Homo sapiens: one gene and its partners. The protein of the gene in region 1 purifies or fractionates together with the protein of each later gene. This does not show direct contact. Each region holds a gene or a part of one and is shown in the gene's direction. Other genes may lie near its edges.

Evidence for each region.
Region 2: the proteins of RFTN1 (region 1) and SERPINA3 purify together in Homo sapiens (co-immunoprecipitation; one large-scale study listed by IntAct). This does not show direct contact.
Region 3: the proteins of RFTN1 (region 1) and SERPINA1 purify together in Homo sapiens (co-immunoprecipitation; one large-scale study listed by IntAct). This does not show direct contact.
Region 4: the proteins of RFTN1 (region 1) and UNC119B purify together in Homo sapiens (co-immunoprecipitation; one large-scale study listed by IntAct). This does not show direct contact.

The regions. Positions count from the first base shown.
Region 1 is NC_000003.12:16,507,200-16,510,699, reverse strand, and holds part of RFTN1 (raftlin), read left to right. Parts: intron 1-3,500. UniProt on the Homo sapiens protein: Involved in protein trafficking via association with clathrin and AP2 complex.
Region 2 is NC_000014.9:94,615,391-94,618,890, forward strand, and holds part of SERPINA3 (alpha-1-antichymotrypsin precursor), read left to right. Parts: intron 1-3,500. UniProt on the Homo sapiens protein: Although its physiological function is unclear, it can inhibit neutrophil cathepsin G and mast cell chymase, both of which can convert angiotensin-1 to the active angiotensin-2.
Region 3 is NC_000014.9:94,378,603-94,382,102, reverse strand, and holds part of SERPINA1 (alpha-1-antitrypsin precursor), read left to right. Parts: intron 1-961; coding exon 962-1,232; intron 1,233-2,491; coding exon 2,492-2,639; intron 2,640-3,462; coding exon 3,463-3,500.
Region 4 is NC_000012.12:120,716,958-120,720,457, forward strand, and holds part of UNC119B (protein unc-119 homolog B), read left to right. Parts: coding exon 1-85; intron 86-2,962; coding exon 2,963-3,075; 3' UTR 3,076-3,500. UniProt on the Homo sapiens protein: Myristoyl-binding protein that acts as a cargo adapter: specifically binds the myristoyl moiety of a subset of N-terminally myristoylated proteins and is required for their localization.

The DNA.
Region 1 (3,500 bases):
ACATGGTTATACCATTTTACAGTCTCACCAGCAAAGAATACAAGTATGAGATTCCAGATACTACAGCCCTGTCTTTCCTATCCTAAAGTCAAGAGCATGGTTTGACTAGTGTTCTTCTGGGGCCAGAGGGAATCTGAGGCAGTGGGGAACATGTTTTTATAGGTGGAGGGGCCATAGGAAGTCCCTGACTCTGCCTGAAAATGGGTTTAAACTTAAATCATTGCAGACGATCAGATGAATATTTTATTTTTAGAGATTTTCAGAGAAGGGAATTCCATAGGGGAATGTACCCTTGGTTGTGAAAGAAGATTGATTGAGTGCTTTCTATAAAAAGAAAAATAACCCCAAGCCCCACAGAATTTTACTAAGCTTCTGCCTAGAAACTCCCGGGGGATTTCTGGTCTATTGGTAGGGTTGATATTAACTTGGTGGAGAGTCCCCTTGGATTTCACCGGCTTGGTCAGCCGGCTACTGAAAGGGGTTGTGTTTATTTTGAGGGGCAGGTCAGATTTGGCTTTGTTAAGACTCAGAGAATGACTCTCTTGTGAAAGTGATCTGGCCTCTCAGTGAGAAACATGGCCTGTCAACACCCCTCTTATTGTCCTGACTGGGAAAATGGGCCTGTGCCCCTCGGGTCCCCTAATAACTTAGTCCCTCTCTGTGGTGCCAACAGCCAAAGCTTGCCTTGGCTGATCTAGGAAACGGGAAGTGAACTTTTCTGTCTGAGTGGGACCCCAGGATGCATGTTTTGCATCCCATCAAGGTGTCCCAGGGCTGACCAAGCTTTGCAGGAGTCAGATGGCAGACAGCTCAGTCTTGAGACATTGCACTGTGTTTGGGGACTGTTCCCTCCTCCTTAAAAGCCTAGCGCAGTGCCTGCCAGAGGGTAGGGACACAGTAAACATTGGCTGAGTGATTTCGTGACTCGTGATACCCATCTGGGTGATCGCCTCTCTGGAGGTTGACAGTGGGTGTCAAGATGTCAGGGCCCCAGGATGTATTTTACTCGAGGGCACTTTACCATGGCTTGGAAAACACATTCAAAGGGTTTGGGCCTAGGAAAATTTTGTTCAGTGTAAACTTTCATTGTATTAACACTGTTCTCTTTATTACTGATTTTAATATTGTTAATAAAATACAAATAATTATAGCTGCCACTTGCTGAGTGCTTACCCTTTGCCAGGCACTGTTGTACATTTTGCACGCATTATCTGAATTTAATCCTCATGAGAGGCGAGTACTTATATTATCTTCACTTCAGCCCTGAGGAAATTGAAGCTTGCAAGGTTAACTTTCCCTAAGTTCACGTTTTCATTTTTCTAAGACCTTAAGGGAAGAGACTGTGACATTCTGGTTTTTTGAAGGCAAAATCTGTCTACAATCACGGATTTCCAAATACACAAAGCCATATTATAATAGAAATGTAAATTAGATAATCAGAACAGCGTTACAGGAAATGATACACTGCAATCATTTTCTTTAGTTTTTTTTTGTTGTTGTTTGTTTGTTTTCATTTTGTCTTAAGCTTACTGAGTTTGGCACAGCCAGGGGCTTATACTAATTTTGATGATAATTTAAAATATTATTGGTTGATTAGGATTACAATTTTATTGAAGGAACAGAAAGACGTTGCCAGCTGAACTGTTCAATACAGTAGCCACTAGTTACATGTGGCTATTTACATTTAAATGTAATGAATTAAAAGAAAAGAAAATTTAAAATTCAGTCCTTCCGTCTCACTCACCGCATTTCAAGTGGCCCAGAGCCACGTGTGGTTAGTGGCTACTGAATTGGATAGCACAGATAGTAGTTTCATCATTGCTGAAAGTTCTGTTTGACAGTGCTGCTCTGTGGTGTTTTTTTTTTACCCTTCAGTTTAAGAATTGGTAACACACTTGGCTAGGGCTTCTGCTATTTTTCACTGACAAAGGGATACATTTAGCCAGATGTTGCTTTTGTGTTTACCTTTTAAAGGGGTGTGTGTGTGTGTGTGTGTGTGTGTGCGTGCGTGTGATCTTTCCTTCCATTCACATTCAGTTTTTGACATACGTTTGAATCTCCCTTTTCTCCTGGGCCCCAAAGGGGCTTTCATTATTAGCATTGCATGTTTTATCAAGACACTTTCTCATAAAAAATTGGTACAGCAGGCAAGCGATAGCCACTGCTTGAACCCGGCTAATTCCTTGCTCTCCAAATAAGAATTCAGTTCAGCTTTTAAATATGCAATTGTGTGACTTACTCCCTACCTGGGCTGAATTCAGGAGGAAAAATCACTCTCAGTGGGCCAGAACCAAAGAGCTGGAAAATCAGGTGACATTCTGCAGTGATGGCTCCCTGCCAGGACTGAGATGGAGGAGACACCATTTGGGGTACTTGAAAGCTTCGTTTAGAGTTTTCCTGGATTTGACCTGCCTCCGGGGTGCAGGGATTGATGGAGAAGGCTGGCAGCTTTGATGTCCCAGTTACATGGGACAGTGGAGGGCTGGTACTGTGGCTGTCACCTCTGCTGGGGTGTACAGTACTTCAGAACCAGCCTCACAGGAGAGAGGAAGCCACTCCTCAGGTGTCTGCAAGCAGCAAGTCCAGCCAGAAGTGGGAAATCAACATAAGCTATGCTTGGCTCAGTTGTTTGATGCCGACAAACTCTTATGCTACTTTAAGATCCCGTATTGGAGGTTTCCACACTTCTTCAACCAGGAAGCCAGATGCACCTCACTGACAACTTTCTCTGGCGTTTACACCTGAAATGTCCCGTCGTGTTGTTCCATAGGCAGACCTCCTTGAGGGTTACAATTTATTCTTTACGGGGGCCTATCAGCTTTCATATGTGTGCATGTGTGTGTGTATATATATGTGTGTATGTGTGTGTGTGTGTATGTATGTATGTATGTGCGTTTGTGTGTGTTTGTGTGTATGTGAGTGTATGTGTGTGTTTGTGTGTATGTGAGTGTGCATGTATGTGTGTATGTGTTTGTGTGTATGTGTGTATGTGTATGTATGTGTGTGTATGTGTGTGTTTATGTGCATTGTGTGTGTATGTATGTGCGTGTTTGTGGATGTGTGCATGTGTGTGTGTATGTGTGTGTGTGTGTGTGTGTGTTTTGAAACTCCCTACTTTGCCTTTTACCCTTTGTCCTGAGGAATCCTTCAAGTTTTATGGAATAGCGCTAAAGTTCCTCAGATTTGGGGGAACTGTTGTAATAGATTTTACTCAGAAAGTTGGGTAAGAGATTTGGTTAATCATAGACTCTGGTTAATGGAACCTGATCATATCATGTATTAGCAAATTTTGGAAATATAAAGCACAAGAAATCAGGTTGTTTATTTAAACACTTCTTTAATTTAGAGAGGTCTTTTGGGATTTTCTGGTGTCTTATGATACCTTATAAGTGCCCTTTTCAGTGTGGCATAATCATGACTATAGGCCAGAGTAGGTCAAAAGGTGTCTTCATAATGAGCAACAAGTAATCCCAGTAGAGTACTAAAACGGTTAATATTTA
Region 2 (3,500 bases), on another chromosome or scaffold:
AACCACTCCAGGGCGCGTAGGAGCTAGAGCTCCCTCCTTGCAGGGGTGCTGCTAGACTAGGCCAGGAAGTCCCTCTGTCTGGATGCACCTGGGGCTCCTGCCCTGCACATGTGGGAGGAGCACATTCCAGCCAGGGGCCTTGGTGTCTGGAGGTGGCCAGGTGGGGCTGGGGCCATCTTCACAGGGCAAGATAATCCCCAAGGAGCCTGGCCACTTCCAAGATTCTATGATTCTACTCTGCTATCATCTTTAATTATTTTAAAAAATATGTCACTGACACATAACAAATGAGGGCAGAAATGGCATTGTTCCCATCTGGGGAAGAGCCTCAAGGGTGGGCAGTATACAAAACATGACCCTTTGCCAGATTCTAACTGGTCCAGTGCCCAATCCCATTGATAGAAACTCAACCAATGCAAACCTCAGCCTGCAAGCTCCGAAGGGGCAGAGTGCAAGCCGGTAGCTTTTGCCTCCTGGAGCCCACAGTCCAGATGGGGACAAAAAAAGAGATAGGGACACAAAGAGTGATCACTGAGCCAGAGGGTGGAAAGGTGCTTAGGAGACATGAGCTGCTTGGAGGCAGAGTCCTGCTTGGAAGCTGTTGGTTGATTCCTGGGCAAGCCACTTCCCCTCCTGGGCCTGGGTTTTCATCTGTAAATGAAGGCGTGGATCCAGATCTCCCTCTAAGACTACTCCACGCCTCACGTGCCATTTGTTCTCTGAGTTTCCCATGTTCTCGCCTCCTACTACCTAGCCCTATGCTAGGACTCTCCCCTCCAGGACACAGTAGCCAGCCTAGCTTTCCCCTCCCCACCTGCCTCTAACAATGGGAAACAGGCAGGTGGTAAACAGGTGGGCAGTGGAGGTGGCCCCATGTCTCCAGCCTCCCCTGGAAGCTCCCACCCCCCTCATTGTTCAGTGCTCTGGTCCTCCTGGAGTGGAGACCTGCAGGGCCCCTCCCCTTCCTCTGTTGACCTCTCCTCACTCTCCAGGTGCCAGTTTTGCTCCCTGCCTCAGCCTGGTTTACATACAGTGTATGTGACGGGGCTTGGTCACTGCTGGGGCAGCCCTGTGGAAGGTGGAGGGGACCGAGCATGCATGAGCTTCAGGCTGAGACAGTCCCAGCTCAGAACCCTGGAGTGCTTGTTCCCTCCCTTTCTGCTCTTCCTCTTCCATTGCACCCACTGGACCCAAGAGCATGCAAGGATTGACTCACCCAGTGATGCTAGAACTATGTATTCAGCTGAAAGTAAGGGGGTGGGGGCATCCAACCAGGGGCAGAAGATGGGAATTCAAGAAAGGAAGGTTTCCCCTAGAAAACGGTTTTCGTCTTTTCTCTTAAATCCAGATAGAATAAGAAGCGAAGGCCGTTACAGCAGAGAGAAAGTTGAGTCAAGCAGAGATCAGATACTAAAGACACTAGACTAACCAGACATTCGGGCCCTCAGTTGAACAGCTGAGGATGTCAGAAGATGTTAAGGAGGCAAAATTGGAAAACTTGGTGGCTGGCAGACAGAAATGGGGGGAGATGGGAGCAGATGTGAGAAGATTTAAAGGCTTGTAGAGCTTGGGTGGTGATTTCATCCACCAAACCTATCTCTCTCCCCATTCTGGCATACAAGGCAGCAGTCAGGGTCCCCAGAGGCAGCCCATCTTTCTGGCAGGGACCCATGCTGGAGATCTGGCCAGCTGAAAGGCCCCAAAGGAGCTCGGTGCCCTGGGTAATATGGGAAGGTGCTCCATGGCACTGCCCTCACATGGAGGCCACAGAAGCCCCTGAATGGCTGCTGCAATTGGTAACGGGGACACCTGTTCAACTGAAATATCTCCTACCCTGAGATGGGTCCTTTCTCCAAGGGATCTTTACAATTACATTTGTCCCCAGTCATTCCATGTTGGGAGGCTGCAGGGACCAGAGAAGCTGAGATGGTCTTTGGGGAGGGGAAAGGAAAGATGGACAGTTATTTTGGTCCTAGAAAGCCCAAAGGTGGGGAAGTGTCAAGAAGGAAGATGAGGGCACAAGAGAATGTAGGGCCACCCAGAAGCTGGCTCTCATTGCAATTACAGAAAGAAAAACCAAAATAAAGAAAGAAAGGAAAGAAGCTCCCATTTATTGAGCAGCTACTCTCACCAGCCATTCACATGCAATACCTCGTTTAATTCTCGCAGCGGCTCTGAAAGGTGGATGGTGGTATTGCCATTTGTTAGGTAGGAGACATGCCGTCCAGAAAAGCAAATAATTAAACATTCAAAGTTGACCTGGGCCCATTTGAAAATTCCTTTTGCTCCCTCATTTTAACCCCTAAAGTAAAGCCGTTTGTGACTTTATGAGCTTTTACCAAGCATCTCCTAAAACCAAGAATGGAGGTGAAAGATTGTGGAGCCCACAACCTAGAGAAAGGATTGACAATTTTTTTTCCATAAAGGGCCTAGTAGTATGTATTTTAGGCTGTGTGGTCCACATGAGGGCAGATTCTTCTTTTTGACTTCCTCCTCTGCATCTTCTTCATCTTCTCTTTCCTCTTCATTTTTTTTACAACCTTTGAAAAATATAAGCACCATTCTTAGCTTTAGGTACACACAAAAATAAGCTATGGCTGTATTGGCTTACAGGCTATAGTTTCCTGACCCCTGTTCTAGGGGAGGAAAATAATTGTACCCAACTAAATGCGTGCGAATCATGGGCCTATGTCATGATTCCCAAAGAATGAGTTTCATGGAATTTTCAACATTTTAAATATTTTACTCCATTCTTCCCTTGCTTGCATAGTTTCTGATGAGAAGTCTGCTGTCATTTTCATCCTTATTCCTTTTTAGATAAGGTGGAGTTTTCCTCCCTCTGCCTCTACCTCTACCTCTTTCAAGATTTTCTCTTTCTCTTTACTATGGTAAATAGGCCTTTAGTGAGAGGAGTTATGTCAGCCTGGCTAGGAGTCAGGCTGCATTTCAGGTTTGTGATAGCTAGAGGTACCAGAGGCAGTTTCATGGAATTTTACCTTTGCAACACTGAGAGCCTAGGCAGCCTCAGAGTCAGAACACCCACAGTTGAATCCTCAGCCTGACAGACACTGAATCCAGGGCAAATCTTAGCTGAATATTCATGGTCTGTAGAGGTGGACATGAGCTAGATATGAGCTAAGGACCATAGCCAGCTCATGGCTTTTGTGATGTCCAACACCGCTATCCTCTAAGATGTCACAAGTGTCCCTAGGCTTTTATTCCCATGGTCTCTCCTGGCTCTGAGTTCTATCTTCCATTAAGGTTCTTCCTGTTCCTCCCCTCATTCACACTGATTGGCATCTCTTCTGTCTGCCCTCACCAACTCACATACAGAACCCAGTCTCTTTCCTCTTATTTCCACCCAAAGCCCTCCCACAAGCCACTGTTATATGTTCACATCCCTGTAATACCAGTGAGTAATAATTGCTAATGAGACATTTTTCCTTTTATGGAACAAAGGCTGTCCCATTTCTCCTCAGGCACCAGCCTCCCACATGTTG
Region 3 (3,500 bases), on another chromosome or scaffold:
ATACCATTCTTGCTGTCAGGTTTTTTTAGGATTAAACAAATGACAAAGACTGTGGGGATGGTGTGTGGCATACAGCAGGTGATGGACTCTTCTGTATCTCAGGCTGCCTTCCTGCCCCTGAGGGGTTAAAATGCCAGGGTCCTGGGGGCCCCAGGGCATTCTAAGCCAGCTCCCACTGTCCCAGGAAAACAGCATAGGGGAGGGGAGGTGGGAGGCAAGGCCAGGGGCTGCTTCCTCCACTCTGAGGCTCCCTTGCTCTTGAGGCAAAGGAGGGCAGTGGAGAGCAGCCAGGCTGCAGTCAGCACAGCTAAAGTCCTGGCTCTGCTGTGGCCTTAGTGGGGGCCCAGGTCCCTCTCCAGCCCCAGTCTCCTCCTTCTGTCCAATGAGAAAGCTGGGATCAGGGGTCCCTGAGGCCCCTGTCCACTCTGCATGCCTCGATGGTGAAGCTCTGTTGGTATGGCAGAGGGGAGGCTGCTCAGGCATCTGCATTTCCCCTGCCAATCTAGAGGATGAGGAAAGCTCTCAGGAATAGTAAGCAGAATGTTTGCCCTGGATGAATAACTGAGCTGCCAATTAACAAGGGGCAGGGAGCCTTAGACAGAAGGTACCAAATATGCCTGATGCTCCAACATTTTATTTGTAATATCCAAGACACCCTCAAATAAACATATGATTCCAATAAAAATGCACAGCCACGATGGCATCTCTTAGCCTGACATCGCCACGATGTAGAAATTCTGCATCTTCCTCTAGTTTTGAATTATCCCCACACAATCTTTTTCGGCAGCTTGGATGGTCAGTTTCAGCACCTTTTACAGATGATGAAGCTGAGCCTCGAGGGATGTGTGTCGTCAAGGGGGCTCAGGGCTTCTCAGGGAGGGGACTCATGGTTTCTTTATTCTGCTACACTCTTCCAAACCTTCACTCACCCCTGGTGATGCCCACCTTCCCCTCTCTCCAGGCAAATGGGAGAGACCCTTTGAAGTCAAGGACACCGAGGAAGAGGACTTCCACGTGGACCAGGTGACCACCGTGAAGGTGCCTATGATGAAGCGTTTAGGCATGTTTAACATCCAGCACTGTAAGAAGCTGTCCAGCTGGGTGCTGCTGATGAAATACCTGGGCAATGCCACCGCCATCTTCTTCCTGCCTGATGAGGGGAAACTACAGCACCTGGAAAATGAACTCACCCACGATATCATCACCAAGTTCCTGGAAAATGAAGACAGAAGGTGATTCCCCAACCTGAGGGTGACCAAGAAGCTGCCCACACCTCTTAGCCATGTTGGGACTGAGGCCCATCAGGACTGGCCAGAGGGCTGAGGAGGGTGAACCCCACATCCCTGGGTCACTGCTACTCTGTATAAACTTGGCTTCCAGAATGAGGCCACCACTGAGTTCAGGCAGCGCCATCCATGCTCCATGAGGAGGACAGTACCCAGGGGTGAGGAGGTAAAGGTCTCGTCCCTGGGGACTTCCCACTCCAGTGTGGACACTGTCCCTTCCCAATATCCAGTGCCCAGGGCAGGGACAGCAGCACCACCACACGTTCTGGCAGAACCAAAAAGGAACAGATGGGCTTCCTGGCAAAGGCAGCAGTGGAGTGTGGAGTTCAAGGGTAGAATGTCCCTGGGGGGACGGGGGAAGAGCCTGTGTGGCAAGGCCCAGAAAAGCAAGGTTCGGAATTGGAACAGCCAGGCCATGTTCGCAGAAGGCTTGCGTTTCTCTGTCACTTTATCGGTGCTGTTAGATTGGGTGTCCTGTAGTAAGTGATACTTAAACATGAGCCACACATTAGTGTATGTGTGTGCATTCGTGATTATGCCCATGCCCTGCTGATCTAGTTCGTTTTGTACACTGTAAAACCAAGATGAAAATACAAAAGGTGTCGGGTTCATAATAGGAATCGAGGCTGGAATTTCTCTGTTCCATGCCAGCACCTCCTGAGGTCTCTGCTCCAGGGGTTGAGAAAGAACAAAGAGGCTGAGAGGGTAACGGATCAGAGAGCCCAGAGCCAAGCTGCCCGCTCACACCAGACCCTGCTCAGGGTGGCATTGTCTCCCCATGGAAAACCAGAGAGGAGCACTCAGCCTGGTGTGGTCACTCTTCTCTTATCCACTAAACGGTTGTCACTGGGCACTGCCACCAGCCCCGTGTTTCTCTGGGTGTAGGGCCCTGGGGATGTTACAGGCTGGGGGCCAGGTGACCCAACACTACAGGGCAAGATGAGACAGGCTTCCAGGACACCTAGAATATCAGAGGAGGTGGCATTTCAAGCTTTTGTGATTCATTCGATGTTAACATTCTTTGACTCAATGTAGAAGAGCTAAAAGTAGAACAAACCAAAGCCGAGTTCCCATCTTAGTGTGGGTGGAGGACACAGGAGTAAGTGGCAGAAATAATCAGAAAAGAAAACACTTGCACTGTGGTGGGTCCCAGAAGAACAAGAGGAATGCTGTGCCATGCCTTGAATTTCTTTTCTGCACGACAGGTCTGCCAGCTTACATTTACCCAAACTGTCCATTACTGGAACCTATGATCTGAAGAGCGTCCTGGGTCAACTGGGCATCACTAAGGTCTTCAGCAATGGGGCTGACCTCTCCGGGGTCACAGAGGAGGCACCCCTGAAGCTCTCCAAGGTGAGATCACCCTGACGACCTTGTTGCACCCTGGTATCTGTAGGGAAGAATGTGTGGGGGCTGCAGCTCTGTCCTGAGGCTGAGGAAGGGGCCGAGGGAAACAAATGAAGACCCAGGCTGAGCTCCTGAAGATGCCCGTGATTCACTGACACGGGACGTGGTCAAACAGCAAAGCCAGGCAGGGGACTGCTGTGCAGCTGGCACTTTCGGGGCCTCCCTTGAGGTTGTGTCACTGACCCTGAATTTCAACTTTGCCCAAGACCTTCTAGACATTGGGCCTTGATTTATCCATACTGACACAGAAAGGTTTGGGCTAAGTTGTTTCAAAGGAATTTCTGACTCCTTCGATCTGTGAGATTTGGTGTCTGAATTAATGAATGATTTCAGCTAAAGATGACACTTATTTTGGAAAACTAAAGGCGACCAATGAACAACTGCAGTTCCATGAATGGCTGCATTATCTTGGGGTCTGGGCACTGTGAAGGTCACTGCCAGGGTCCGTGTCCTCAAGGAGCTTCAAGCCGTGTACTAGAAAGGAGAGAGCCCTGGAGGCAGACGTGGAGTGACGATGCTCTTCCCTGTTCTGAGTTGTGGGTGCACCTGAGCAGGGGGAGAGGCGCTTGTCAGGAAGATGGACAGAGGGGAGCCAGCCCCATCAGCCAAAGCCTTGAGGAGGAGCAAGGCCTATGTGACAGGGAGGGAGAGGATGTGCAGGGCCAGGGCCGTCCAGGGGGAGTGAGCGCTTCCTGGGAGGTGTCCACGTGAGCCTTGCTCGAGGCCTGGGATCAGCCTTACAACGTGTCTCTGCTTCTCTCCCCTCCAGGCCGTGCATAAGGCTGTGCTGACCATCGACGAGAAAGG
Region 4 (3,500 bases), on another chromosome or scaffold:
GACTTTGATTTTGGCTTCTGCATCCCCAGCAGTAGGAACACTTGTGAACATATCTATGAGTTTCCCCAGCTTTCGGAGGATGTCAGTATGTATCCCCTGACCCTTACAGCACTCTAGATTCTGAGGGCTACAAGGAACAAACCTTGAAACCCATCTGGTCCAGCGCCCTGGCATTGTCTCGTGGCAGTGCTGACATGATGCGTATCTAGTCATTTGACCTCAGGCTTCTCATTTCCTATTGCTCCTGGCTCCTGTTCTAAACTCTGACTCGGCCCGTATGGGAGCAATGAAGGGTTTGTTTGTTTTTGTTTTTGTTTTTTTCCCCTGAGACAGAGTCTTGCTCTGTCTGTTGCCCAGGCTGGAGTGCAGCAGCGCGATCTCGGCTCACTGTAACCTCTGCCTCCCAGGTTCAAGCGATTCTCCTGCCTCAGCCTCCTGAGTAGCTGGGATTACACCACACTTGGCTAGTTTTTGTATTTTCAGTAGAGACGGGATTTCACCATGTTGGTCAGGCTGGTCTCGAACACTTGACCTCATGATCCACTCTCCTCGGCCTCCCACAATGCTGGGATTACAGGTGTGAGCCACTGCCCCCGGCCCTTTTGTTTTTTTCTTTTTTTTTTGAGACGGAGTCTTGCCCTATTGCCCAGGCTGGAGTGCAGTGGCGCAGTCTTGGCTCAGTGCATCCTCCGTCTCCTGGGTTCAAGTGATTCTCCTGCCTCAGCCTCTCGAGTAGCTGGGATTATAGGCACCTGCCACCATGCCCGGCTAATTTTTTGTATTTTTTGTAGAGACAGAGTTTCACCATGTTGGTCAGGCTGGTCTCGAACTCCTGACCCTGTGATCCACCTGCCTCATCCTCCCAAAGTACTGGGGATTACAGGCGTGAGCCACTGTGCTCAGTCTGAAGGTTTTTTTTTTTTTTCTTTTTGAGACGGAGTCTTGATCTTGTCACCCAGGCTGGAGTGCAGTGGCGCAATCTCGGCTCACTGCAAGCTCTGCCTCCTGGGTTCATGCCATTCTGCCTCAGCCTCCTGAGTAGCTGAGACTACAGGTGCCCACCACCATGCCCGGCTAATTTTTTGTATTTTTAGTAGAGACGGGGTTTCACCGTGTTAGCCAGGATAGTCCCAATCTCCTGACCTCGTGATCCGCCTGCTTCGGCCTCCCAAAGTGCTGGAATTACAGGCTTGAGCCACTGCGCCCGGCCGGTCTGAAGGTTTTAATAATACAGGCCATCCTTTTAGATGCCTCCTGTGGGAAGACAGTGCCTAAGGGAGATAAAAGGAGGCCTGTGACCATCCCTGGGACGCTGATCAGATAAAGCACCTCTCCTGTGCACTGTTAGTCATGGTTTTCCATTGTGTTTTAGTCATTGGCCCTTCACTTTTTTCTTAATCAGAGCTAGATGTGAAACTGCAGGCTAAATAGAATCAAGGCCAGAGGACTTCTTTTCCATTCCCTGCAGGATAGAGAGTTGATTGGATAAAGTGTTGAGATAGATCCAGCAGGAAGGAATGGGGCTGTTGTAGATTTTGGGGCAGGAGTGAGAAGGTGGAAATACTGTTTGAGGAAGAGTGGCCTAGACCTGGGGAGGGCACCAGAGGGAGAAGGCTGCTGCCGTGTAGCCTCGGCAAGGGAAGATGGGGACCAAACGAGAGAGAAAGAACAGCCCTTGTCAGTTTCTGCAACTTTGGCCTAGCCACCTCAGGTTCGCATCCTTTGTGAATAGTTAGGGAAAATTCAAGTCATTTATGAGGGTGTGAATAGAATCCTGTGACTAGTGATGCCTGTAGTTGCCTTGCTGGCATCACTGATTGGTCCTCTCAGAATCCCAGGTCCTTAAGAATTGTCATATTCTGAAAACCAGATAACCTTTAATCGTGTGGCAGTACAGTTCCCAGGTAAAATGAGGATTGCTGAGATGTGGGGCAGGGTGTTGACGACAGCATCTGGTTCTGACTTGAACCCCTCTTCCCAAGCTGGCTAGAATATGTAGATACTTGCAAGAAAAGATGATGTATAGTGTTATAAGTTTTACCCATGAAGCCAAATCAGCCTGGAGGGCAATATTATGCATATAAACCGAGTAGTTTTGGCATTGGTGGGTTCAAAGAACTTTAAAAAATCAGTTTCACTTTTTGAGAACTGTGGTGAGCAACAGCATTTCCTCCAGGGGACTCCAAATGGCATGTAATCATTAACTCAAAACTGATCAGAGGTAGTATTATCTTTATTCTCCAGTATGGTTAAAGACTCAAAATGGCATGTAATCATTAACTCAAAACTGATCAGAGGTAGTGACTGTTAATTATCTTTACTCTCCAGTATGGTTAAAGAGGTCTGGGCAATTGCCTGAACAAACAAGACTTTACTTTAGATCCCAAGACAGGCAGACCTATTGCTGAATCATTTGCGAGTTAATACCCAGAAGGTCTCCGGAGAAGGCTCCCTGCCCTGTGTTCCTTGCACTCATTCCAATCTAGGTTTCCTTGGGTTGTCAGGGTTGTGTGTGGAGGTGGGCACAGTGAGGCTCAGATTTCTGAATTTGGAGTGGAATGTCTAGAGGTGGGCCACTGACCAGAGGCCAGGGCTGGCTTTGGTCAGCTGAGAGCACTGAGTAAATAGGTTGGTGGGGTCCATGTTGGGAAGAGGGGTGAGCACATTTCCCTGGTATCTTGGCTGAAGAATCCAGGCTGGAGATGACAGAGGAGGCCATGGTGGAGAGTTGATTGCATCCTTATGTTGAAATGGAGATCATGTTCAGCTGGGGGGCCTCTGTGGTCTCCCCAGCTGTCAAGGGCTGCCTCCCTCTGTTCTGACCTCATCGTTATTCTGGCAGAGTATACTCTGAAGCGCTGGCTTATTTTGGAGGGGATGCAAAGTTTTCTCCCACCTACCCTGTGGGGCAGACTCAAACATAATTCTTTGCTTTTTTCTTCCCCCTTTGCCTGACTTGCAGTTCGTCTAATGATTGAAAATCCTTACGAGACCCGCTCTGACAGCTTCTACTTTGTTGACAACAAGCTGATAATGCACAACAAGGCTGATTATGCCTATAATGGAGGCCAGTAAGTGCTGCAAGAGTAGATAGGGGAGGTGCTTTGCCGCGGCCACAAGATCCTGGCACACGGAGATGATCGAAGCTGCAGTTTGTCAACACACATCTGGAACCTGGCCCCAGGAAGCCAAGGCTGGGGTGGCAGTTTCCTGCGCGCCAAAGGAGCTGCCAAACAGTGCTGTGTTTTCTTCCCCAGTATTTTTTCTTCCCTTTTTTTCCTGCCCCGTAGGTTGCAGAGGTACTATAGTAAAGTAAAAGGTTAGGATAAGGGTCCTGGAATCCAGATAAAAAAGTTTATTTTCCGTAGTTCTGGCTGCCTGTTGGTTGTCTTGACGACCAGGCATAGCTGTGCCTGGTGAGAAGGCTCTGGCCAGGCCCACCAGCAGGTCAGCAGCTCTTAAGGTTCCTGGGTGCTGTGGGAAGCTGAAAGGTAGGCCTC